Linked DNA regions of Homo sapiens. The protein of the gene in region 1 purifies or fractionates together with the protein of each later gene. This does not show direct contact. Each region holds a gene or a part of one and is shown in the gene's direction. Other genes may lie near its edges.

Evidence for each region.
Region 2: the proteins of UBE2B (region 1) and WAC purify together in Homo sapiens (affinity purification with mass spectrometry, with the first as the bait; one large-scale study listed by BioGRID). This does not show direct contact.
Region 3: the proteins of UBE2B (region 1) and SLF1 purify together in Homo sapiens (affinity purification with mass spectrometry, with the first as the bait; one large-scale study listed by BioGRID). This does not show direct contact.
Region 4: the proteins of UBE2B (region 1) and UNK fractionate together in Homo sapiens (co-fractionation; one large-scale study listed by BioGRID). This does not show direct contact.
Region 5: the proteins of UBE2B (region 1) and CTR9 purify together in Homo sapiens (pull-down; one large-scale study listed by IntAct). This does not show direct contact.
Region 6: the proteins of UBE2B (region 1) and UBR3 purify together in Homo sapiens (affinity purification with western blotting; 2 studies listed by BioGRID, with this or other methods). This does not show direct contact.
Region 7: the proteins of UBE2B (region 1) and COL20A1 purify together in Homo sapiens (affinity purification with mass spectrometry; one large-scale study listed by BioGRID and IntAct). This does not show direct contact.

Annotation. Positions count from the first base shown.
Region 1 is NC_000005.10:134,378,069-134,381,568, forward strand, and holds part of UBE2B (ubiquitin-conjugating enzyme E2 B), read left to right. Parts: intron 1-2,650; coding exon 2,651-2,740; intron 2,741-3,500. UniProt on the Homo sapiens protein: E2 ubiquitin-conjugating enzyme that accepts ubiquitin from the ubiquitin-activating enzyme E1 and transfers it to a E3 ubiquitin-protein ligase. In vitro catalyzes 'Lys-11'-, as well as 'Lys-48'- and 'Lys-63'-linked polyubiquitination.
Region 2 is NC_000010.11:28,536,118-28,539,617, forward strand, and holds part of WAC (WW domain-containing adapter protein with coiled-coil), read left to right. Parts: intron 1-3,500.
Region 3 is NC_000005.10:94,691,669-94,694,894, forward strand, and holds part of SLF1 (SMC5-SMC6 complex localization factor protein 1), read left to right. Parts: intron 1-405; coding exon 406-588; intron 589-888; coding exon of another isoform or gene 889-896; exon of another isoform or gene 897-3,153; intron 3,154-3,162; coding exon 3,163-3,226. UniProt on the Homo sapiens protein: Plays a role in the DNA damage response (DDR) pathway by regulating postreplication repair of UV-damaged DNA and genomic stability maintenance.
Region 4 is NC_000017.11:75,812,306-75,815,805, forward strand, and holds part of UNK (RING finger protein unkempt homolog), read left to right. Parts: exon of another isoform or gene 1-55; intron 56-149; coding exon 150-280; intron 281-772; coding exon 773-908; intron 909-1,455; coding exon 1,456-1,573; intron 1,574-2,524; exon of another isoform or gene 2,525-2,584; coding exon of another isoform or gene 2,585-2,590; intron 2,591-2,863; coding exon 2,864-2,948; intron 2,949-3,500. UniProt on the Homo sapiens protein: Sequence-specific RNA-binding protein which plays an important role in the establishment and maintenance of the early morphology of cortical neurons during embryonic development.
Region 5 is NC_000011.10:10,777,746-10,780,246, forward strand, and holds the end of CTR9 (RNA polymerase-associated protein CTR9 homolog), read left to right. Parts: intron 1-933; coding exon 934-1,360; 3' UTR 1,361-2,001; downstream 2,002-2,501. UniProt on the Homo sapiens protein: Component of the PAF1 complex (PAF1C) which has multiple functions during transcription by RNA polymerase II and is implicated in regulation of development and maintenance of embryonic stem cell pluripotency.
Region 6 is NC_000002.12:169,949,454-169,952,953, forward strand, and holds part of UBR3 (E3 ubiquitin-protein ligase UBR3), read left to right. Parts: intron 1-151; coding exon 152-612; intron 613-3,500. UniProt on the Homo sapiens protein: E3 ubiquitin-protein ligase which is a component of the N-end rule pathway. Does not bind to proteins bearing specific N-terminal residues that are destabilizing according to the N-end rule, leading to their ubiquitination and subsequent degradation.
Region 7 is NC_000020.11:63,296,186-63,299,685, forward strand, and holds part of COL20A1 (collagen alpha-1(XX) chain precursor), read left to right. Parts: intron 1-1,724; coding exon 1,725-1,835; intron 1,836-3,500. UniProt on the Homo sapiens protein: Probable collagen protein.

The DNA of each region.
Region 1 (3,500 bases):
GCTACTTGGGAGGATTACCTGAGCCCAAGAGGTCAAGGCTGCAGTGAGCCCTGGTGGAGCCACTGAGCTCCAGCCTGGGTGACAGAGTGAGACCTTGTCTTTAAAAAAGTTACCAATTTTTCTTAATTTCTTAATTTAAAGACATTTTTATTAGTATTAGGAAGCTCTGGACCCTTGAGTATCTATGTGGGTTTTTTTTGTTTGTTTTTTGTTTTTTGTCTCGCTCTCTCACCCAGGCTGGAGTGCAGAGGCGCAATCTTGGCTCACTGAAGCCTCCGCCTCCGAGGTTCAAGTGATTCTCGTGCCTCAGCCTTCCAAGTAGCTGGGATTACAGACATGTGCTACCATGCCCGGCTAATTTTTGTATTTTTAGTAGAGATGGGGTTTCACCATGTTGGCCAGGCTGGGGCCTTAAACTCCTGACCTCAGGTGATCTGCCCACCTTGGCCACCCGAAGTGCTGAGGCATGAGCCACACCCAGCCGAGTATCTGTCTTTTTAATATTCTGTATGATATGAAGTAGAATGTATGAACAAAGCACTTCTGCATGTCATAGTATGATAGTTGTCTGGAAGAAAAGCACTTCTACAGTTGTTTGAGTTGCAATTTGAATGACTTTTTTTCATGGAACATTTTTTACTTGAAAATACAGACAAGCTGTGGTTATTCAGGTTTGAATATATGGCAGACATATTCTCAGAAGTAATGTAATAAGCTCGGTGTGGTGGCGGGCACCTGTAATCCCAGCTACTCGGGAGACTGAGGCAGGAGAATTGCTTGAACCTGGGAGGCAGAGGTTGCAGTGCGCCAAGATCGCACCATTGCACCCTAGCCTGGACAACAGAGCAAGACTCCATCTCAAAAAAAAAAAAAAAAAACAGTGGGGGGATCTAAGTGGGTTGTTAGGTTAAGGATAGCAACTGAAGATATTTGTTGCTGTTGATAAAATAACAGCTTCCTGATACTTACTTTTTGATGAGATTAGTGGGTAGTGTTACCTGTTGTGATTTTTTTGATAGTATATAATGGAATATGGCAACATTTGGAGGATCTGTAAACTCGAGTCACCCAATATTTTGCAGATGTCCCATGAATAATAATACAAAACCATGAATGGGTAAAACACGTATGTGAAGTGAACAGATTTTAATGTAACTGAGTACAAAAAGTTGACTAATAATTTCAGATTCTATATTGCAGCAAACCTTTAAAAGAACTACCATTTCTTCTTTGGTATAATATCAAAACAGAATAGCTACAGTCACCTGAAAAAGCTATTCAAATACTACTTTTTTTGCTGGGTGCAGTGGTTCATGCCTGTAATCCCAGCACTTTGGGAGGCCAAGGTGGGCAGATCACCTGAGGTCAGGAGTTCAAGACCAGCCTGGCCAACATGGTGAAACGTCGTCTCTACTAAAAATACAAAAATGAGCCAGGCGGGATGGCACGTGCCTGTAATCTCAGCTACCCCAGAGGCTGAGGCAGGAGAATTGCTTGAACCCAGGAGACGGAGGCTGCAGTAAGCTGAGATGGTGCCATTGCACTCCAGCCTGGGCAACAGTGAGACTCTGTCTCAACAAAAAAAAAAAAAAAAAAGGAAGAAAGAAAGAAAGTACTCCTTTTTTCAAGTACATATTTGTGTGAGGCCAGATTTTCTTCATGTACTTAAACTAAACGGTATTGTAATAGATGGAGTGCAGAAGCAGATAAGAGAATCCAGCTATCTTCTGTTAAGCCAGTCATTAAAGAGACAGTTGCAAATATGTAAAACATTGCTTACACTTATCACCAACTTGGGGAGAAATATAATTTTAATTTATATTCTGTGTAATGGGTTTGCAGTTTAACCTACCTTTTTTTTTTGGAGACAGAGTCTTGCTCTTGTCACCCAGACTAGAGTGCAATGGCGCGATCTCTGCTCACAGCAACCTCCGCCTCCCAGGTTCAAGCAATTCTCTTGCCTCACCCTCCTGAGTAGCTGAGATTACAGGCACCCCCATACCCAGCTCATTTTTGTACTTTTAGTAGAGGTGGAGTTTGACCACGTTGGCCAGGCTAGTCTCAACTCCTGACCTCAGGTGATCCGCCCACCTTAGCCTCCCAAAGTGCTGGAATTACAGGCGTGAGCCACCCCACCTGGCTACAGTTATTTTTAATGAAGATTTTCTGAGTTAAAGTTTTTTTGTGTGTGTGAGACGGAGTCTTGCTTTGTCACCCATGCCAGAGCATAGCGGCATGATCTGGGCTCACTGCAACCTCCACCTCCTGGGAGGGTCCTTTGCCATGTGGTAGTCAGACCCTCTCAAAATCCTTTAACCAACTCCCATTCTAAGCTATAATAAACTATTTGTAGTTCTTCAAATATGCATTTTAAATCTTGGTAGCTAGGGCCTAGTTGCCTTCCAAAAATATGACAGTTAACACTCCCACCAATAGCAACATGAATGTGCTTGTTCCCCAACCGCTTGCCAATGCTGCGTGTTACCATTCTAACATAAATAGAGTATATTTAGGATGTTTTGTATGCCGAACCAACGTTGACATACTAACTTTTATGTGGTTGTACAAAAACCAGTATGCAGTTGAGAACTGATGAAGAGATTAAAAAGTCGTGCTTGTCTTTACTATAATTATTTTGTTTTCTCTCTAGGTACTTTTAAACTAGTAATAGAATTTTCTGAAGAATATCCAAATAAACCACCAACTGTTAGGTTTTTATCCAAAATGTTTCATCCAAATGGTAAGTAGCATTTTATAGATTTTGCAGATGATAGTGGGGAAAAGAGTTGTTTCCCTCCTTTTAGCTCTTTCACCTTACTTTTTACTGTTAGGGCTCACTTGTAGGTGTTGCTTCCATGTCCATGTGAGCCACGTATTTTGTTGTGGATTTTTTTTTTTTTTTTTTTTTTTTTTTTTGAGACGGAGTCTCGCTCTGTCGCCCAGGCTGGAGTGCAGTGGCGCGATCTCGGCTCACTGCAAGCTCCGCCTCCCGGGTTCACGCCATTCTCCTGCCTCAGCCTTGTGAGTAGCTGGGACTACAGGCGTCCACCACCACGCCTGGCTAATTTTTTATATTTTTAGTAGAGACGGGGTTTCACCATGTTAGCCAGGATGGTCTCGATCTCCTGACCTTGTGATCTGCCCACCTTGGCCTCCCAAAGTGCTGGGTTTGTTGTGGATTTTTGGTTTGTTTCTTATTTCTTCAGAGACAAAGTTATACTCTGTCACCCCTGCTGGAGTGCAGTGGTACAGTCACAGTTCACTGTTACCTCAAACTCCTGGGTTCAAGTAATCCTCCTGCCTCAGACTCCTAACTAGCTGGGACGACAGGTGTGGACCACCATGCCCAGCTAATTTTTTTGTTTGTTTTCTTTTTCTTTTTTGTAGACACAAAGTCTCTGTGTGTTGCCCAGGCTGGTCCTTGAACTCCTAGCCTCAAGCAGTCCTCCCACTTTGACCTCCCAAAGCACTGTGATTACAGGAATGGGCCATTTTTTCCA
Region 2 (3,500 bases), on another chromosome or scaffold:
GCGCCTGTAGTGCCAGCTCTTCAGGAAGCTAAGGTAGGAGAATCACTTGAACCTGGTTGGTGGAGGTTGCAGTCAGCCTGAGATGGTGCCACTGCACTCCAGCCTGGGTGCTAGAGTGAGACTCCATTAAAAAAAAAAAAAAAGCGGACTTTAGTGTTTAATAATAAGGGAATGCATTTATGAATATAGTTTAAAACATGCTTTCTTAAGGATGGGAAAAATGCAGGACTTTTTTCCAAGAAAGGAACTTTGACCTTTTAAAGATTTCAGTTTGAGATCCTTATTGTTGCTTCAGTTTGTTACTTTTTAAGGTGTTCAAATCTGTTTTCTAATTACAATGATAAACTATGAATTTAAAAACTCATTATGTTTTTTCAGGATAGTTCCCAGATTTAAAAAATTATTTATGACTTAGAAAATACATTCTTGCTTTTTGTTGTAAACATTTTCAGTATTCTCCAGTTTTGGTGATGTGATTTTTATACCTGGTTCATTGAAATATTCTTTTTAAAAGTTAGTCTGATTTCTTTTGCACAGTCCTGTACCTTCAATTATAAGTTTGCCTCAAGCTCTTTGTGGTAGGAGTCTGAGAATAAGTAAACAAAACCAATTCTCAGTAACTATTTTCAGACTTAATTTGCCCGAATTACATTTCATGTCAAAAGCATGCATTAAGGAACAAAGCAATTTCAGTAAAGACACCTATATTCTCTCCTACATGTTGCTTAAGTAGATAACATATCTTAAGCAGATTTACAATATTAAAAGCTTCCAAGGAAACTCAGTAAAGTACCATGTGACTTTTTGCCCCTATTGGCAGCTAGTTCTTCAATACTTGGCTTACTTTAAAAAAAATACCTTGCATCTTGCCCCTTTTGTCCACCTAGGATAGAAATCAGCTTTATTCAGTGTGATCATATACTGAGAAACATTGGCTTCCTCTACATAATTACTGGTTTGAGAAAATACAGTCAGAAGATTGCACTGGGATTGAATAATTTGGATGAGAAGAAAGTAGTTCTCTATTGAATGTAGTTATAGCTTAGTGCTATTTATGCAGATAAACCACATTTTTGTAACAGTAGTAGCAGGTGTATTTGATTATTAAAGTGTTACAAGTTATTGGGTTGCAAAATTAAGCTTTTAGAGTTATCAGTTTTGTGGGTAAGTTTTCCATAGTATTATGTAAAGCCTGAGATGGTACTCTCTATCAACCACTCTTCTATAGTGGATTTCATTTCTAATGTTAGCTCTTGGAGAGCAGGTACTGGTTGTACTATACTGTATTTATTTTGAAAAATTTGGTGATTGTAACAAAATAGGATATGGCACCTCATCTTCTTACAAATAGGCTCTTATTTTAGTGACTATGATCCAGTTTATCCCCAAATGCAAGAAGTCAGTTTTTCAGTTATAAATGCTTTCAATCATTTCCAGCAAACCTTGCTCAGCCAATTCTTTTACAGGTGAAGTAATCCCAAGAACATTCTGTTGCTTATTCATTCAACAAACCTGGGGCATCTACTGTGTGCCAACATTTGTGTGATACTCCTGGGAGTCAAGATGTGATCCTGGCCTTGAAGCTATTCTTAAATGCTTTGACTCTTGAGAGCTAGTGGTGTTTTAGCCACTTACTTTTTCTGTACCCATTTTTTCTTCACTTTGATTTTTTCATTTTTCTACCTGTATGAACTCCAGGTACTTGTTAGCTTTTCGTTTTTAAAAATTTGCATCTTTCCTGATGTTTCTTTAGCTTCATTTGCAAGAAACTTGATGTTTTTCTGATCTAATCACTTGCTAAGTTAGGCCCCACTTTCCAATTTTCTTTCTAGCTGATTGTCGTCTTCTGGAGTCTTCCAGCTAATACTGTGATTCCATTCCTGTCTCTACCATCTCTAACATACCTGGCTGCCATATTCCTTTATATTATATGGAAATAATAATATGAGGTATATCTCCATTCTGGAATTGAGAGTACATCTTTGATATTCTCTCTTCAAAAAACGTAAAATGGTGATTTTTCCTCATTTTATAGTGAGATATTTAGTCATTATAATTTGTTTTCTGGTGTTTATTTTTTATTGCTAATGATGTGTTTGGCACTAAGATGTTAAAAGTGTATATGTATGATTTTTATTGCAGGCATTATAAACTCCTTTGGATTTTTATCCAAAAATGAATTCAGGCCGGGTCAGTGGCTCACGCCGGAATCTCAGCACTTTGGGAGGCCGAGGCAGGCAGATCACCTGAGGTCAGGAGTTTGAGACCAGCCTGGCCAACGTGGTGAAACCCTGTCTCTACTACAAATACAAAAGTTAGCTGGTTGCGGTGGCGAGTGCCTGTAATCCCAACTACTAGGGAGGCTGAGGCAGGAAAATCACTTGAACCCAGGAGGTGGAGGTTGCAGTGAGCTGAGATTGTGCCATTGCACTCCAGCCTGGGAGACGGATTGAGACCCTGTCTCAAAAAAAAAAAAAAAAAAAAGAATTCAGCCAGGCACAGCTGCTCATCTCTGTAATGCTGGTTGCTTGGGAGGTTGAGATGGGAAGGTCCTTTGAAGCCAGGAGTTTGAGACTAGCCTTGGCAACATAGCAAGACCCTGTGTCTACTAAAAAAAAAAAAAATTTTTTTTTTGATTAGCTGGGTGTGGTGGGATGATTGCTTGAGCCCAGGAGTTTGAGGTTAACAGTGAGCTGTGGTTGTGCCACCACACTCTAACCTGGGTTGATAGAGTGAGACCCGTCTGTTTAAAAAAAAAAAAAAAAAAGAAAAAAATTAATGTATATAAATTCAAGACCATTATCAAAAATCAAATGCAAGTGAGTTGGATTATCTAAGCTCTAAGCATGTAAAAAACTTAAGATTACAGCAGGTTACTTACTATATGCATTGAACTACTGAATTCAAATTTCCCAGTTTTTCATTTTAAGATTTAATGATTTTCTTTACTAATAATAACCTATATGCTATGATTTGTAACTTGCATTTTACAAAGCAAGTTAAATGTGGAACTTGTGCGTTTGTTTACCTTAGGATTAGGCTTTACTGGCATCACAGCATTTTTCAGTAATTACTAGATTTCTTAGCATCTTGGATTTCATTGAAAAATGCTCGTTCAGAAGTAATGTATGAAAGGACTTGCAGATACAATATAAAAAGTGAGAAATCAGGGATTGTGAAGGTTTTTATTCCCAAAAACCTTGCTAGTTAAAATAAGACTTGCTGTAACATAGCGTGTATAGTTTAGAGTTAGAGATTTTATCCATTAGGATTTATTAAAGGAAATAATGTCTATTGTAAATTTAAGATAGGTTATGTGAGAGTATAATTAAAATATTTTTTTGTGAAATGAGTTATTTTTATATAGTCTGTGATCTGTCTGAAAACATACAATCTTGTTTAAAGTAACCAAAAGCAAAAACCTTAAGGTACAATCGTTAGGGTTTGTTTTTTGGTTTTTTTTTTTCTGGAGACAGAGTTGCCCAGGCTGGAGTGCAGTG
Region 3 (3,226 bases), about 40 Mb from region 1:
TCTTTGTGGTCTAGTCCAATGTCTTAATATTTGTGATATTAAACAGTTTTATATCACATTAAGAAAAATTATTTAAGTAAATTTACCTAAGGTATCTTAAAAGTATAAGAAAAATTTCTTAGCAAAGCCAAGAAATTTCTCATATATTGATTTATAACTAATGGTATAAAAACATTTTTTGGTGTCCATATTTTGATAATACCCAACATTAATATTTTAAAATTGTTTTTATTTTAATTTTTTAAGGTAGAAATATGATTACACCCTAGACATTTTTATCACAGCATTCTTTTTGTATATGAAGCACCTAGAAAGTCACACTGATGAGAAAAGTAGAACATCAGTACTTTTCTACCAAAAGTCCTACTTCTGCTGTTTTAAAACTTGCCTTGATTTCTAATTTAGACAATGCTGGCTGGACGCCTTTGCATGAAGCCTGTAACTATGGCAACACAGTGTGTGTCCAGGAAATTTTGCAACGTTGTCCAGAGGTAGATCTGCTCACTCAAGTGGACGGGGTGACTCCTTTGCATGATGCACTGTCAAACGGACATGTAGAAATTGGCAAGCTGCTACTACAGCATGGGGGTGAGTGTGTTTATGCTAAATGGGTTTTGATAAATTATCCAGTTTTTTGATGAATCCTGCAGAGGTAGATAGCATTTTATGTTTAAAATCTGTAAGGAAAGATGCCTTTATTTCATATTAATGAAAAAGTAAGGATAAAAAGTCTCCTAAAACGTAAGCACCTTTTATTATTAGAGATAAAATCCTTTTCATAATGTATATTTGTTTATGTATATATTATTAAGCCTATTTAGGTTCGTGTATGAGAGTCTGTTTTTGAATTGAGTTTGCTGGTTTTAAATATTTATCTTTTTCCTTCAGGTGTGTAATGTCTTTGTGAGCCAGTCATTTCTGAAAGCTTATTGATAAATGGATATAAATGTTCAATTGTGATTACCTGGATTTTTTCATTTCCTGTATGTAACTACAAACTCAATCTTATTTTTAATGAGTCATTTCTGTACAGACTGTAAAAAAATGATATCCTAGAATATTTTTCGTCATTCACATTTTGCAGCCAATTAAGTTAAAGCAGGAGGATTTTCAAATGGTGATAACTGTTATGCAGGGGTTTTGTGAAGGAGGTAACTTGAGCTGAATATTCATCTGCGTTTTTCCTGCTGATTTTTGATCTTTGCTTTCAGCAAGGCCCCACATTATTTCAGTGTCATTCTTCTTATATCTAAACTGAATAATATAAATTTTACAACAAAATGTTCAAAACGGATTGGTGCTTTTAAAAGAAAAAAAGAAAACTGATGACCAGCTTAGAATATGGAAACAAAGATTTGTAGAAATTACTTGTCGTTTTTATTTGTATTAATTTTACATTTAAATTTAACATTATCTTATCCTGTAATTAAAACATTTGATTGTGCATAAAGACAAAAAGCGTATTTTCTTAAGATGTCTTTTTAGTATATATGCATCTAAGGAAGGCTGTATAGCATGGGAGTTTAAGACATTTGGTTATATATAGTCTTCTCCTGCCCCCTAAAGGCCTTAGTGTGTCTGTTTTACTGATATCATTTCATAGTCAATGTTTTTCAGTTCTTCTACCTTGTTTTTTTTAGTATTCTGTGTTTACTAAACCATAAGTTCTACCTCCTTAATGTTTTATTTTTCTACTCAGCCGTGTGTCTGGCATTCAGGCCAATATTTGTTAGGAGCCATTATTGTATTAGGTCCAGCTCTTCAGTAGAGTATGGCATTATACCAACCAATGTGAATTTTTCTAGGGCTCTTAGTGGAGAATAGTAAAGAGATGAGTTTCTCCTCCTAGAAGAGGAAATCTAATTGTTTTTGTTTTTATCAAGGTCCTTTGGCAGTCGTACAGACTTGTTTCTGCCTTAGTCATATTCTGGGTTTGGACCTGTCAAGTGGTTTGACACTTATATTGAAGTAACTGCATTATCTATTCATTGTGAGTCACTCAGCCTCAAGAGCAATAATTTCAAGAATTTATTTATTTCTCTAAAACGTTTGTTTACTTTTGGTATCCTGTGTCCGTAATTTTGTCTTTTTTTTTTTTTTTAAACAGAAGTAACTTGGAACAATTTTTTTGAGATGTTGGCACAGTGAAAAGGAGCCTAATTTTGTTTTAGAATTATCTTCTTTCCATAAATTATACATTAATCATATTATCAATGGTTGATCTTTTATATTAAGTACATTTTATATCTATGCTACTATGTATGTCTGATCAGAGTCATCATTATGAATTTTAGCAGTTATAATCAGTTCTCTCTTTCTGACAATATGATCTATGTTATAATTGTAGGACCTAGTGATTATGTCTGCTAGTACTAAAATCTTTATATCCCCTGTAACGTTTTTATGGCCAAGTGCATAAATAATTATAAGACTTGACTGATGAAGGCAAAAGTACTCCTATACTTTGCTATGTAACCAAATACTGAGTTATGTTTTGCCTTCTCCACATCATCCTTTAGTACTTAGTGGATAAACTCTATCTTTAGTACTTTCTAAGTAGGTAGTTAAATGAGTTTAACTAGTATAGATGGATGAGATCTGAGTTTGATCTAGAAGAATTAATATGTAATTTGTGTGAACCAGTTACCTGTACTAAACATTGAACACAAGCAAGGGTAATATGAAAACTGTTCTCTATCTGTGCAAGGTTTTGTAGTCTTTGCACTGCTAGAATTGTTTATTAGCAATGAAAGGGGCACTACTTTTTCCTCTTGGTGATATTTTGAGATACCCCTGAGGCTCTTGTATAGAATTTATAAGATGAATAATACATTTTTAAGATTTCTTCTGGGAACACTGAAATTCTTATTTTAAAATGACAGTTGATAAAGTTTTATAAAAGTTTTTATTTGTAGTTGTATTTATTATTTATTTAACGGAGGCATGCACGTTTGGGGAAACCTTATTAGGTAATTGACTAGAATTTTTTTAATGTACCTTTATTCGTCTATATATATAGTCAGTTAATTGTGTCGACATGAATTAATACAAAATATGATTGCAAAGAAAGCACTGGATGCTTTGGGAAAAAGGAGAAAAGAGCTGTTAAGCTGCCAAAATAGAAATGTTTTACTTGCAACATTTTGCATTTTCTTTTCACAGGCCCAGTGCTTTTACAACAGAGGAATGCTAAGGGAGAATTGCCCTTGGATTATGTGGTTTCACC
Region 4 (3,500 bases), on another chromosome or scaffold:
CTGGGCTGATGGCAGTAGGCTGGGGTCCAGGGCAGGGGCCTGGCGGCTAATGATGGTGAGTACCTCAGACTGCAGTGGAGGGCTGGCACTCTGGTTCTTGCCCCCTCATGCCCCCTCTCCACCCTCTCTGTTCTTTCCTCTCCTCCCAGGGAGCTTCAGGCCATGGAGGCCTTGCAGAATGGCCAGACCACGGTAGAGGGGAGCATAGAGGGCCAGTCGGCTGGGGCTGCGAGCCATGCCATGATAGAAAAGATCCTCAGCGAGGAGCCTCGGTGGCAAGGTACAGGCATCCACACCTCGGCCGCGCCCTCCCTATAATCCTGCTCATAGCTGCCCTGGGGATTTGGCTCACCACCACCTACTGCCTGCTCTAGCCGAGGCCCCGACCTGGCCCGCATCCCACCCTACACCCACCATTCAAAAGGCGCCTCTAGGGGCGTTTTCCCTGACACATCATGTTCCCAAGATCCCTCCAGGCTTTCACATGTGCACAGGCACGTACATAAGCGCACATGCAAATGTTTTCCGCCCTGCAAGAGTGCCCTTTCACCCTGTGAGCTGTGAGTGTCTCTCTGATGGACAGCATCTGTTGTCCTTGCTGCACCTGGGGCTGTCCCATGGCCTGGGAGGAGGGGCCCTACTCACATCTGGCAGGGGCCTCCTGTCTTGAACTCCTTCCCAGTGGCTTCTCCTTCCCTCCACTCCAGTCCTGCTAGTCTTGGGGTGCTCCAGCTCCTCTCACCTGACCCCTGCCCTCTGGCCCCCTGTGCAGAGACTGCTTATGTGCTGGGGAACTATAAGACGGAGCCTTGCAAGAAGCCCCCGCGGCTGTGCCGCCAAGGCTATGCCTGTCCCTACTACCACAACAGCAAGGACCGGCGGCGGAGCCCCCGGAAGCACAAATACAGGTCCTTAGGCCCCAGGAGGCCAGCCACGGGAGGGAGGAGTGGCAGGGAAGGGGTCAGGCAGAGGCTGCTCCCACTGGCTCTCCGGGAGGAGGGGAGGCTGGTCCTGGGGATGACAGGATCGCAAGCCCAGGGCCCAGGGGAGGGCATAGTGAGGATAGCTGGACAGTAGGAGCCCAGCTTCACCTCCTGCATGAATGAGGACCCTGGTCAGACCGTCTCTGAGGCTCCACCGCTCCTGATCCTGAGGGGAATGTGTTGAATGAGGACCAGGCCACAGCGTGGACAGTGTGGTTGTAGCTCCAGCCTGACCCTACTTGGGCTAGTGGGAGGGCCTGGCTGAGGGGAATCAAACAGTATCCTTTGTGGTGATTCGGCCAGGCTGGGTCAGAGAAAGAGCTTGGCTTGTGGCACCAGCAAGGCCCTGACTCTGCAGCTGGTCTTTTCCATTTCTGTGCTCATGCCTATGAGGCTGGGTCCAGGTGGCACCTGCTAGGCTCCGATCTCACCTTCTCCTTTCTCCATCTGACCCCACCCTCTTGTTGGCCAGGTCGTCTCCATGTCCAAACGTCAAGCACGGGGATGAGTGGGGAGACCCTGGCAAGTGTGAGAACGGAGACGCCTGCCAGTACTGCCACACCCGCACCGAGCAGCAGTTCCACCCCGAGGTGGGCCCCACAGCAGGGTGGGGGGGTGGCTTTGGGAAGTAAGGAGAGAGGCAGGCAGGATCAGTGGAGATGTTGGCAGAACCCATCCTGATGCCATCCTGGAAGAGGGACTTGTGGCCACCAGCTCTCCCCTGGCAGTGCCTAGAGGATCCCTGCATGCTGAATTTGGCATCTTCTCCTATTCTGAGCCCACGCTCACCAAGCAGCCCTCTGCTTCCAGTTCTGTGTCCCCCAGGCCTCCTGACAGGGCAGGTGTAGATGGAGTGTGGCGACCTGGCCACTCTGGGCTTTCCACCACTCATGGTGCTTGTAATCCAGTGACATCAGGATTGAAAAAATAGGGCCAGGCACGGTGGCTTATGCCTATAATTCCAGCACTCTGGGAGGCCGAGGTGGGTGCATCACTTGAGGTCAGGAGTTTGAGACTACCCTGCAACATGCTATCTCTACTAAATGTACAAAAATTAGCCAGATTTGGTGGTGAGCGCCTGTAACCCCAGCTACTCGGGAGGCTGAGGTGGGAGGATCGCTTGAACCCGGGAGGCGGAAGTTGCAGTGAGCCAAGATCGCACCACTGCACTCCAGCCTGGGTGACAGAGCGAGACTCCATCAAAAAAAAAAAAAAAAAAAAAAGGATTGAAAAAAAGTAAGCTCCTTCCTGTTGCCCTGTCTCCTATCAGGGCCTAGATTATCAGCAACCTCCCTAACACAGTTCCCTTGCCCTCTGGCCCCAAGAGGTAGCCTGGGCCATATCTGTGTGCCTAGGTCTTGTCTGGGGTTCAGAGAGGCACCTGCAGTCCCTGCCCTTGGTGTTCCATGGAAGCCAGGACACCCTGAGGTAGACACGCGGACAGAAACTACCTTATGTAGCTGCAGACAGCAGAGTGGAAGGTTACTTATATAGGTCACAACCCAGGGTATCCTGACAGGGTTCACATTGGCAGGGGTAGTTGCCTGAGATTGTGGCTCCCTTAATGCCCAGGAGGCACGCTTGGAGGCACAGACCTGGCCATGCCCGTGAGTGGAGAGTCACTGGGGGATCCCTTTGGGAGGGCTGGTGGGACCTGTGGCCCCAGAACGGAGGCTGTCAGTGACAATGGGGAGTGGTGGTGGGCTGCCTCAGGAGTTTGAGTAAGAAGCTGGTAGGGAGAGACATAGTGGAGGGGAGGGGAGGGGCCGGGAACACAGGGCAAGAGATGACTAAGCCAGCGCACTCATGCTGGAGGAAGGGGAGCCTGCCCGGCCTTCCCTCAGGGCCTGAGCCTGACTTGCCTGTGCTCTGCCCTCCAGATCTACAAGTCCACCAAGTGCAACGACATGCAGCAGTCGGGCAGCTGTCCCCGAGGACCCTTCTGCGCCTTTGCCCACGTAGAACGTATGCTGTTCCCATTGCCCCGGGGCAGTGCCCTCTCCCACCCCTCCCTCGCCTGGCTAGCTCAGGCTTAGGCCGGGGATGGCCCCTGGCAGTATGCCCTGCACAGGAGTTCTGGCCTGCCAGCAGCAGGCCTTGTCCCCACTGGAAGCTCCATTCCCCCACCTTTCTGGAAGTAGCCTTGAAGGCCTAGAGCTTCCAAAGTAGTGAGATAGAGACTGCAGGGATTGTCCGCCTGGTTGAGCACTCATGGTTCCAGGGAGGGTTGAGGCACTGTGCCTCCCATGGCTGACTTGGCAAATCCCACCAGCCACCCCATGTCATACCCATGACAGACATCACTAATGGAACATGGAGCTCTTCTCTGCTGAGTCCTGCTCAGGCCTCTAGAGCAGAGCTAGCCAGTCAGAATATAGTGCAATCCCCATATGTCATTTTAAAGTTAAAATATTTAAGCATGTTAACAAAAATAGCAAAATATGAAAATAAGCTGGGCATGGTGGCACACGCCTGTAATCCCAACTACTCGGGAGGCTGAGGCATGAGAATCACTTG
Region 5 (2,501 bases), on another chromosome or scaffold:
CCCAGGGAAGACCCACAGGTCTTTAATATGTATACAGAAAGAGAGTAATATATTTCACCTCCCTCACCGTTCCTAGACCGAACTCTGTGGGATTCAGTATTCCTTTATTGGAATATCTGTCATGAAAACCAGAACTAAGGAACGTGCCAGAGAAGTGTGCCTGCTCCAAAGGAGCGGTCACCGTGGTTAAGGGAATGTTCTTTCCTCAGAGCCTCCAGGAAGCCAAGACTCTGAGGGTGCTGCCACCATTCTAAGCATAAGCATGACTTCCCCTTTCCTTTCACTTATCAACTGACAAGTAGAGGGGAGAGCTTGGGAGCAAAGGGAAATAAACCAAAGGGCCCCTTTAGCCCCAGTTCCCTATCTTGAGCAAGTCTGGTCATGGTGGAGGGGACCTAGTGCAGTAGCAAATCTTAGGACAGGAATAATGACCTCACTCTTCAGGTACCTGTTAGCACCGATGGCAATAGGACAGGGAAATGTCCTTTGAAACCCTTTTCTGCCTTTGGAAAAGGGTTAATTCTTCAAAGTCTTCAAGCCAGTTGAGATCCTGGATTTCACCTTTGTTGCTGTTAATTTGTGTACAGAGATAAACAAATGTATCCCTTCCTTTTCATAATTTTATATATGAAATTGGGAAATGCTTCATTCTGATGAAAAGTGTCCAGTGAGTCACCATCCCTGTTTATATTTTGACTTATAGCTAAAGTGCCTTATCTTTTTTTCCTTTTTAAACCTTTTTGAGTTGTGAAATATATCACATTTACAGAATAGTACACAAAACAAGTATCACAGAATGATACCTGTGTAACCACTATTTAGGTCAAGAAATAGAATATTAAATGCCCTTCTGTTTTAAAAGCACATTGTCTGCTCATCAAGGCCCCAGTTAGCCAGAATCCTCAGCTTCTAACCAATGATCATCTTTGCCAGACATCCCAGGAACAGCAACAGCAACAGTGACTCAGACGAGGACGAACAACGAAAGAAATGTGCCTCATCAGAGAGTGATTCCGATGAGAACCAGAACAAGTCTGGCAGCGAGGCCGGCAGTCCCCGGAGGCCACGAAGACAGCGGTCAGATCAGGACTCAGACAGTGACCAGCCATCCAGAAAGAGAAGGCCCTCCGGTTCTGAGCAGTCTGACAATGAATCTGTGCAGTCAGGGAGAAGCCACTCAGGAGTTTCTGAGAACGACTCTCGCCCAGCTTCTCCAAGTGCCGAATCAGATCACGAATCGGAGAGAGGATCTGATAATGAGGGTTCTGGCCAAGGCTCTGGAAATGAATCGGAACCAGAGGGATCCAACAATGAGGCCTCAGATAGAGGCTCAGAACATGGGTCAGATGATAGTGACTAGGTTTTATTTCATCAATAAGCTTCATCTCTGGAGGAAACTTTTTTAATATATGAAAGCTGTGATAAAAATGTTTCAGATGTTTAGTCAATTGTGAAATTTTTCTTAAGGCAATTTTCTTTTCTATCAGTTTGTATATTACTAAGCCCCAAGAGACATTTCCTGTGCTAGAGTCCAATATTTGAGTCTCTCGTGCAAATGAGACTATTCTTTGTGGTACAATTCCACCTATCATATGTGAAAACTGCAGTAAAAATAAACCCAGATGCTAAATCATTCCTACAAAGGTTTGACTGAAACTGTGGCAGATGTCTCATCTTCTTTATATGTTAAGCAGCATACTCTTCTGATTTTTATTGCAATCTTTTACCAAGTGGTGCACAAACTTGGTATTGATGTCTTTATTCCATTTTGAGTTTAGATTGAGAATATTTTTATTTTCTGAAGGCAGAGATATCTACTGTATAATTGCACCAAAGTACATTTGAAAGGAAGGTTTTCAATAGTGTAATACTGCAGCGATGTAGATAAAATCACAAATGTATAATGTGTTAGGTTGAATAAGGTGTGGAAAATGCTTTTCTGTTAGTAGAATGCAAAAACCTACCTAAGCCACATAATAATAAAATTCTTTTACCAACTTTTATGGGTAACTTCGTGTCTTTTTTTGTTCGATATATTTGTGCATGGCAGTGTAGCATAAATTATGCAAATATTTGAAAAATCCTACATTAAGCCTCAAGACTTTTATAATTCTTACAGATTCGTGGAGTGTTTATTTTAAAGATGCAAGAAAACTAAGGTACCAGCATGTATTTTTATTTTCAGTAATTCAGTAATTAACACTAATATTTTTATGTAGTGGTTTGTAAGAGCTTTAATTATTGTAGTCAACAAGTATTATTAAATGTGCTATATTAGCCATTGAGGTGAGAATGCAGAGATAAAGTTCCCTTCTTGTCTTCAAAAATTGAGTAAAGATAAATTTGTTGTTCCTGTGGTGTGAGAAATAGGGTGATGATGTTTGCACAGGTTGTGGGAGCAAAAAGGAGGTTGGAAGAAGCAGTGAAGACAAGGTTTCTTGAAGGACAGGAGTCCTGAGATGACTCAGCCTGAGCCAGGGCTCCTGCCTATACCTCAGGAT
Region 6 (3,500 bases), on another chromosome or scaffold:
AAGGGAGAAATTTATTTAAAGAGCAAATCTATTGAATAAATCTTTGTATGAAACTGAGCATTCCCTTTAGAAAATATAGTACTAATATGTTTTTAAAATGATGCTAAATAACTTCTCTTGATTTTTCTTTGTTTCTCTTTGTTAATGGTAGAATTCTGGTACAGCTCAAGTTTTCAGTTTAGTAGCAGAACGTAGAAAGAAATTTCAGGAAATCATCAATCGCAGTAGCAGTGAAGCAAATCAGGTGGTTCGTCCCAAAACTTCAAGTAAATGGTCTGCTCCTGGTTCAGCTCCACAGTTAACTACAGCCATTTTGGAAATTAAAGAAAGCATATTGTCTTTGCTAATTAAACTTCACCACAAACTCTCAGGAAAACAAAACTCCTACTATCCTCCTTGGCTTGATGACATAGAAATTTTAATCCAACCAGAAATTCCTAAATACAGTCATGGAGATGGTATAACTGCCGTGGAAAGAATTTTACTAAAAGCTGCATCGCAAAGTAGAATGAACAAACGCATCATTGAAGAGATATGTAGAAAAGTGACCCCTCCTGTACCACCTAAAAAAGTCACTGCAGCAGAGAAGAAAACATTGGACAAAGAAGAAAGGTAATTTTTATTTTTAATGTTTTAAACGTGTGTATAGTTGAAAATTTGATATTTTCTTCCTTTTGGTCATTTGAGGATAATCACCTGGATGTTTAACAGGAACAGTCATAGCTGATTAGTTTGTAACATAAATGGAATGGAGCATAGTCAGTGCTTGTACATGTGATGTATTGAGTTTATTGATGGACAGGTGAGACTTTCTGACCCCAATGTAAAATTACTACCTTAAACCTGTGTGTCTCTTTGGAAAAATTGCTACTGCTTTTATTGCTGTAGGGATCTAATAATTCTCTTACTGTTAAAGTTGAACTGTTCAGCTTTAAATGAGAATATTAAAAATATTTAAAATATTTCTCAAAATAAAAATCCAACTGCTTTAGTTTCTTTTGGTCTTTTCTAATCTTTATTAATATATGATTGCTGATTTTTAAAAAGTGATGTTTTAAAACACATTCTGACTAACTTATGCTTCTAGCTTTTGGATCTTTAGGTTGCTTATAATTTGTTGTTAAATTATATTTATAAACTTTTTTTTCATCTTTTGACTTTCTTGAAAAAAAAATGGGATTTTTTTAAAATCTCAAGATATATACTATGTTATGTGGGGTTTGTGGGTCAAGGACTATGAGCATGGTTTGGTTCTTTTTTTTAGTGGTACATTGTTTGCCAGAAGAGTTGTGTTACTGTGCATTGTCACAAATTGTTTCCCAAGAGCCTTGTCAACATTGCTGACCCTGCTGTCATAAACATGACAAGGTGAATCTTGAGAGATTGAAACTCTGCATAATTGTCAAACTCTTGGAAAGGGTTCAGTGTTTATTAAAGAAAAAAAAAAAGAGCATGCCTTCTAATGAGTGTACACAGGCTAAAAGACCCAGGACATTTAAAAAAAAGATTTCAGATCAAATTCAAGATAGTCATTGCTCACTTCTCTGAGGTTATAAATAATATTCATTGTTTTAATTTCTTTATTATTTAAGACAAATTTGTCTACCAAAGCAACAATTATAGGGGAAGGGTACACATTTCCCGTTAGGGAGGGTCCAAAGAGATCACATCAATATTATCTTAATTTAAGAACCTAGGACCTTTATCATCTCAATCTGTTTTATATAGGTAAAAATCATTGTCAACAGAGTTATCTGGACTACTGTTGTGAGCAGTATGACTAATACATTATTTAGCAGTTTGAAGTGTACTTTAGAGGTATTTTCTGGATAATTTCATCTTCTTAGTTACTTTTAAAATTAAATATAGGCAGTTATGGGTTAAATGATCAGTGGAAGCAAGCCTAAGATGGATCTTACTTGATTGATCCGTTTCTCATTCATTGGGTGTCAGTCAAGCAGTTTTCTAGACATATCTGTGTCTGGTGTTGGACTTCCTGACCTCGAGGAATTGATACTATAATGGAGAGACAGACTGGTAAACAGATAGTTTGTTAGTAGTGTTAACATAGTGTAACAGATACTATCTTAGGTACACAGGGTGTTAATGGGAGTAGTAGGACATAAGGCTAAGAAGGTAACCATGTATCGTTAACTCGCACAGGGTATAAATGGTTACAGGGAAACTGTGGAAGGATTTTAAGTGAGGAATAATATATAGGGTAATTACATGAGGGTAGATTAGAGTGGGGTAAGACTGGAAATTGGGAGAGCAAGCTACTTAGTCATCTAGTGGGGCAGGTGTGGTAAGGGTCTGAACTAAGACAGTGATGATAATAAAGAGAGGAGGAGATGTGTATGAGATATTTAGCAGGTACAAGTTGTTAGACTCAGTCATCAGGTTGATGTGAGAAATGAGGGAGATGTCTTGAATGGTGCCCTGATTTCTGACTTGAATAATGTTCCTTTTACCAAGATAATGGAGTGTAGGAGGGGTCCCAGGCTCATTAGTAAAAGTGATCTGTTCAGTTCTGGACGCTACTAAGTTTAAGAGGGACACCCAGGTGAAGGTGTCCAGTCAGATATAGGGTTTAAAACTTAAGGGAGAATTCTTAGAGCTACAGATTTGAGCAGCTAGGTAGTAGTAAATCCTTGTATATGGGAGAAGGTTTACAGTAAGAAAATGAGAAGACTGAATGTAGAACTTAAGGGAAAAACATTAAAGGGAATGACTGAGGAAGGGGTACCTACAAAGGTGACTGACGAAGGGATGGCTGAGCAGAGTAAGAGAAAAACTGGGGTGAGTGGCATTAGAGAAGTCACAAGAGGAAGTTCAGAAAGCAAGAAACTTATCAAAATTGTTAAGTGCTACAGGAGTTCAATAAGATTGGCCATCCTATTTGATTTGTTAGTTAGGAGGTCATCCGTTGGTACCTGTATAAGGAGCAATTTTAGTCACATATATAGTTACACTACATCTCTGATGTAATTAAAAGTTTGTTGGGAGGCCGAGGTGAGTGGATCACAAGGTCAGGAGATCAAGACCATCCTGGCCAACATGGTGAAACCTCGTCTCTACTAAAAACATAAAAATTAGCTGGGCGTGGTGGCGTGTGCCTGTAGTCCCAGCTACTAGGGAGGCTGAGGCAGGAGAATTGCTTGAACCTGGGAGACAGAGGTTGCAGTGAGCTGAGATCGCGCTGCTGCACTCCAGCCTGGCGACAGAATGAGACTCCATCTCAAAAAAAAAAGTTTGTTATAAAAAATTTATATTAATATATGCAAAAGCTTATGGTAGATTAAGAATTTAGGAGAATTCCTAAATTGGAGTTATAAAGAACTAACACAAAATTTGTTTCCGTGGGAGAAAGGACATTCAGTAACATATAATTCAGATGACCATTCATTAAGTTTGAATTAGTAATAGCCTAGAATGTAATAAATCTACTGACAAAATTAGAAGGTTGAAAATGAGGTAAGATTGTTATTTTTGTTAATTAG
Region 7 (3,500 bases), on another chromosome or scaffold:
TTGCATGAGCAGGTGCCTTGGTCCCCTCAGCTCAGACAGGGTAACCCTGCCCTGGGGCCAGTGGGGGCTGAGATTTCAGTTTGAAAGAAGCTTGCACTGTCAATTTGAGCCAAATCAGTAAGTTGCTTCTACAGAAACAACTTGAGTTTAGGCGAAGGCAAATCTAGTTCTATCTAGTTCAGGATTCAGCATGATGGGGCCACCCCTCACAAGGGCCTTTCGGGGGCCATTGAGTCCCTGAGGACAGCCAGGTGGGCTGGGGGCACTGAGTCCAGCCCAGGACGGGTGGGAGCCCACACGCTGGGGCAGCCCTTCCCAGGATGGCCCAGGCTGGGTGCGGCCACAGTCCAGGGAGGGGAGCGTGGTCCTGGGTGGGGCCCTTCCCACCAGCCGCTGTCTGCCCAGTGCCCTGCTCAGGCCCCAACAGTGCTGTCCTCCAGCAGGGAGCTGGGGAAGGGGTCCCTGACGTTCTCAGGCAGAGTGGAGCAACAGAAGGCTCTTCACAAGCAGGGGCTGCGGGAGGGGCCCTGCTCACAGCTGGCCTTCAGAGCCCCCTCCTCATCCCCCACACATTCCTGCCTTTCAGCCCCATCCGGAGACCCGGCCCAGCTGCTGCCTGCTCTGAATGGGTCATTGTGTCTGCCCCAGTGCCCCCCAGCCCCTGCTCTTCCCCCCGAGCCCCAGCTTTCCGGGGGGCAGCCCAAAGAAGCCCATCTCTGTCCCCATTTTCCAAAAATAGCTGCCCCTACTGCAGAGCCCCGGAAGCTTTCAGGGGGCACCAACCCTCTCCAGAGCCCTGGGAGGTTGGCCAGGCCCCTGCCGCCCCCTCTTCCTCTCAGATGGCCTGGACACCCATCCCCCATCGCGGGAGGCAGCCTCGTCTTGGCATGGACGCACACATGTACCAACGTGCACACACGTGCCAATGTGCACACACTTCCAGTGTGGGATTCTGCACCCACACTCCCCACTGAGGCGGCACGTGCACCTGGCAGTGACCTTGGCAGCTAGGGGTCTGCAGCTGCATGGCCACTTGTCCTGGGGACCCAGCCCAGGGGACTCAGCCCAGGGGCCCCAGCCCAGGGGACTTAGCTCAGGGGACCCAGCCTGGGGACTCAGCCCAGGGGCCCCAGCTCAGGGGACTTAGCTCAGGGGACCCAGCCCAGGGGACCCAGCTCAGGGGACTCAGCTCAGGGGACCCAGCCCAGGGGACTCAGCCCAGGGGCCCCAGCCCAGGGGACTTAGCTCAGGGGACCCAGCCCGGGGACTCAGCCCAGGGGCCCCAGCTCAGGGGACTCAGCTCAGGGCCCTGGGCAGGTTGCCAGCTGCTGTGTTGGCTCGGGGCCTCCGATCATCAGTGGGGTGGTTGCTGTCCTCCCAGACATGGGCCTGAGCCTCTTCCTGGTGGGAGGACCCCCGGAGAGCCAGGCTGGGGCCTCCCTGGGTGGGACTGGACTCCCTCTCACCAAAGCTACCAGGGTGGCCCTGTGACTGCGGACCCCGGGGAGGGCCGGGTTCTCCTCAGCGCCCAGGCGAGGCCTCGTATCCCCAAGTGGGGCTGAGTCCGCCTCAGACACCCTGGGTGGGCTTCTGTCTCTTCGGGGTCCCCCGGGATAGGACTGTGTTCCTCCCAAATGCTGAGGGCAGGATGCCTGTACCCCCACAGCTGATTAGGTGGATGGGGAGGCCAGGTCAGTCCTGACCACTATGTCCTGTTTCTGTAGCAAGCGGTCTCCTGAGGCTGGCTGTGCTGCCTGAGGACCGGCTGCAGATGAAGTGGAGAGAGTCGGAGGGGAGCGGCCTCGGCTACCTGGTGCAGGTGAAGCCCATGGCAGGTGAGGACCTGCCCCTCCCAGGCCCCCTTCCCCATTAGCACGTGCCGAGGACAGTCAGTGTGGTGGCCGCAGCCACCACTCAGGCCCACAGCATCCCTCCCACCAGCCCCTTAGTGTCAGCACCTCTCTGGCCTTGGTCTCTGCTGACCCACATTCCTTTCCCCCGTCACATATGACATGGAAGAGGGAATGGGGCTCCTCTGTCCCTGGCACGCAGCCCCTGCAGAAGGCATTCAGTACATACTTTTAATTTTTTTGATTTTTAATTTCAATTTTTAATTTTTTTTAAAGGCAGGGTCTTGCTGTGTTGCCCAGACTGGAGTGCAGTGGTGCGATCACAGCTCCCCGCAGCCTCAATCTCCCGAGCTCAGGAGATCCTCCCACCTCAGCCTCCTGTGTAGCTGGGAGTACAGGTGCGTGCCACCACTCCTGGCTAATTTTTGTATTTTTTGTGGAGAAGAGGTTTCACCATGTTGCCCAGGCTGGTCTTGAACTGGGCTCAGGAGATCCGCCCCCCTCAGCCTCTCACAGTGCTGGGATTACAGGCGTGAACCACCATGCCCGGTCCATATTTTTTAAAGAAACGACTCCCTCCTCAGAACGAGTCTCAATGCGTCAGGGGCATTCAGAACAGCCTGGACTCCGCACAGCGAACCCCAGAAGCACCTGCTCCCCACGCGTTAATCCTTGTTTCCAGGAGCAGGGCCTTGAGGACACCTTTTCAGGGAACCCTGTTCCTAGAGCAGGAACAGTCCTAACCTGACAATGGGTGCTAATTTTAAAGCTTTTCAAAACTCAGATGGAAAAGCACACAGGCATAAATGCTAACTGTATGAATCAGCACTGTGGGGTGGCCAACTCAAACCCCTCCTGGGGTGGAAAACGACCGTCCCGGGTGCCCCGGTGCCCTTGCCAACGTCCACCCTCCCCTGCTCCCTGGACGGCCGCCTCCAACAGCATGGACTAGTTTGCCTGTTTCAGAACATTCTCTAAGTGGAATCACACCATGGCGACTCCCTCATGTCTGTGTCTTTGGTGGGCATTTTGTGAGGTTTGCCCCGTGGTGTGTAACAGCCGTCCATTTTCTTTGCTGTATAGTATTCCCCTGTGTGATCTCTTCTGCTATTGATGGACATGTGGCTTGTGTCCAGGTTGGCTGTTGTGTAGACGCCGTGTGAGGGATCCCGCGTGTGTTTCTGGTGTCCGTGCGCCTGTTCTGGGTGTAAACCCAGGAGTGGAAGTGCCACAGTGTGTGCATAGTTTCAACGTTAGTAGAAAATGTTGAACTATTTTCCAAAGGGGTCGTGCCAGTGTATACTCCCGTCAACACTGTATGATTGCTTCCGTTGCATGACACCCTTGGCAACCAACGCTTGGCAGCCTGACTGGAGCTACTCTGGTGGGTGTTCAGTGGTATCCTGTGTTTCTTTGTGGAGCTGTAATTTACGTGCAGAAATCTTCACCCTTTTGAGAAGAGGTCTGTGATTTGTATTTATCACATGAATTCAATCCTGTAGCCGCTATCACAATTGATGTAGAGAACAGTTCTGTTACCCCAAGGTCAGCCCTTAGCCCAGTGCCCGTAACCACTGAGCTGTTTTCTGTTTTGCCTTTTCCAGATAGATGGACCTTATCAGGTTCAGTCCTGTGCTGTTCCTACGTAAG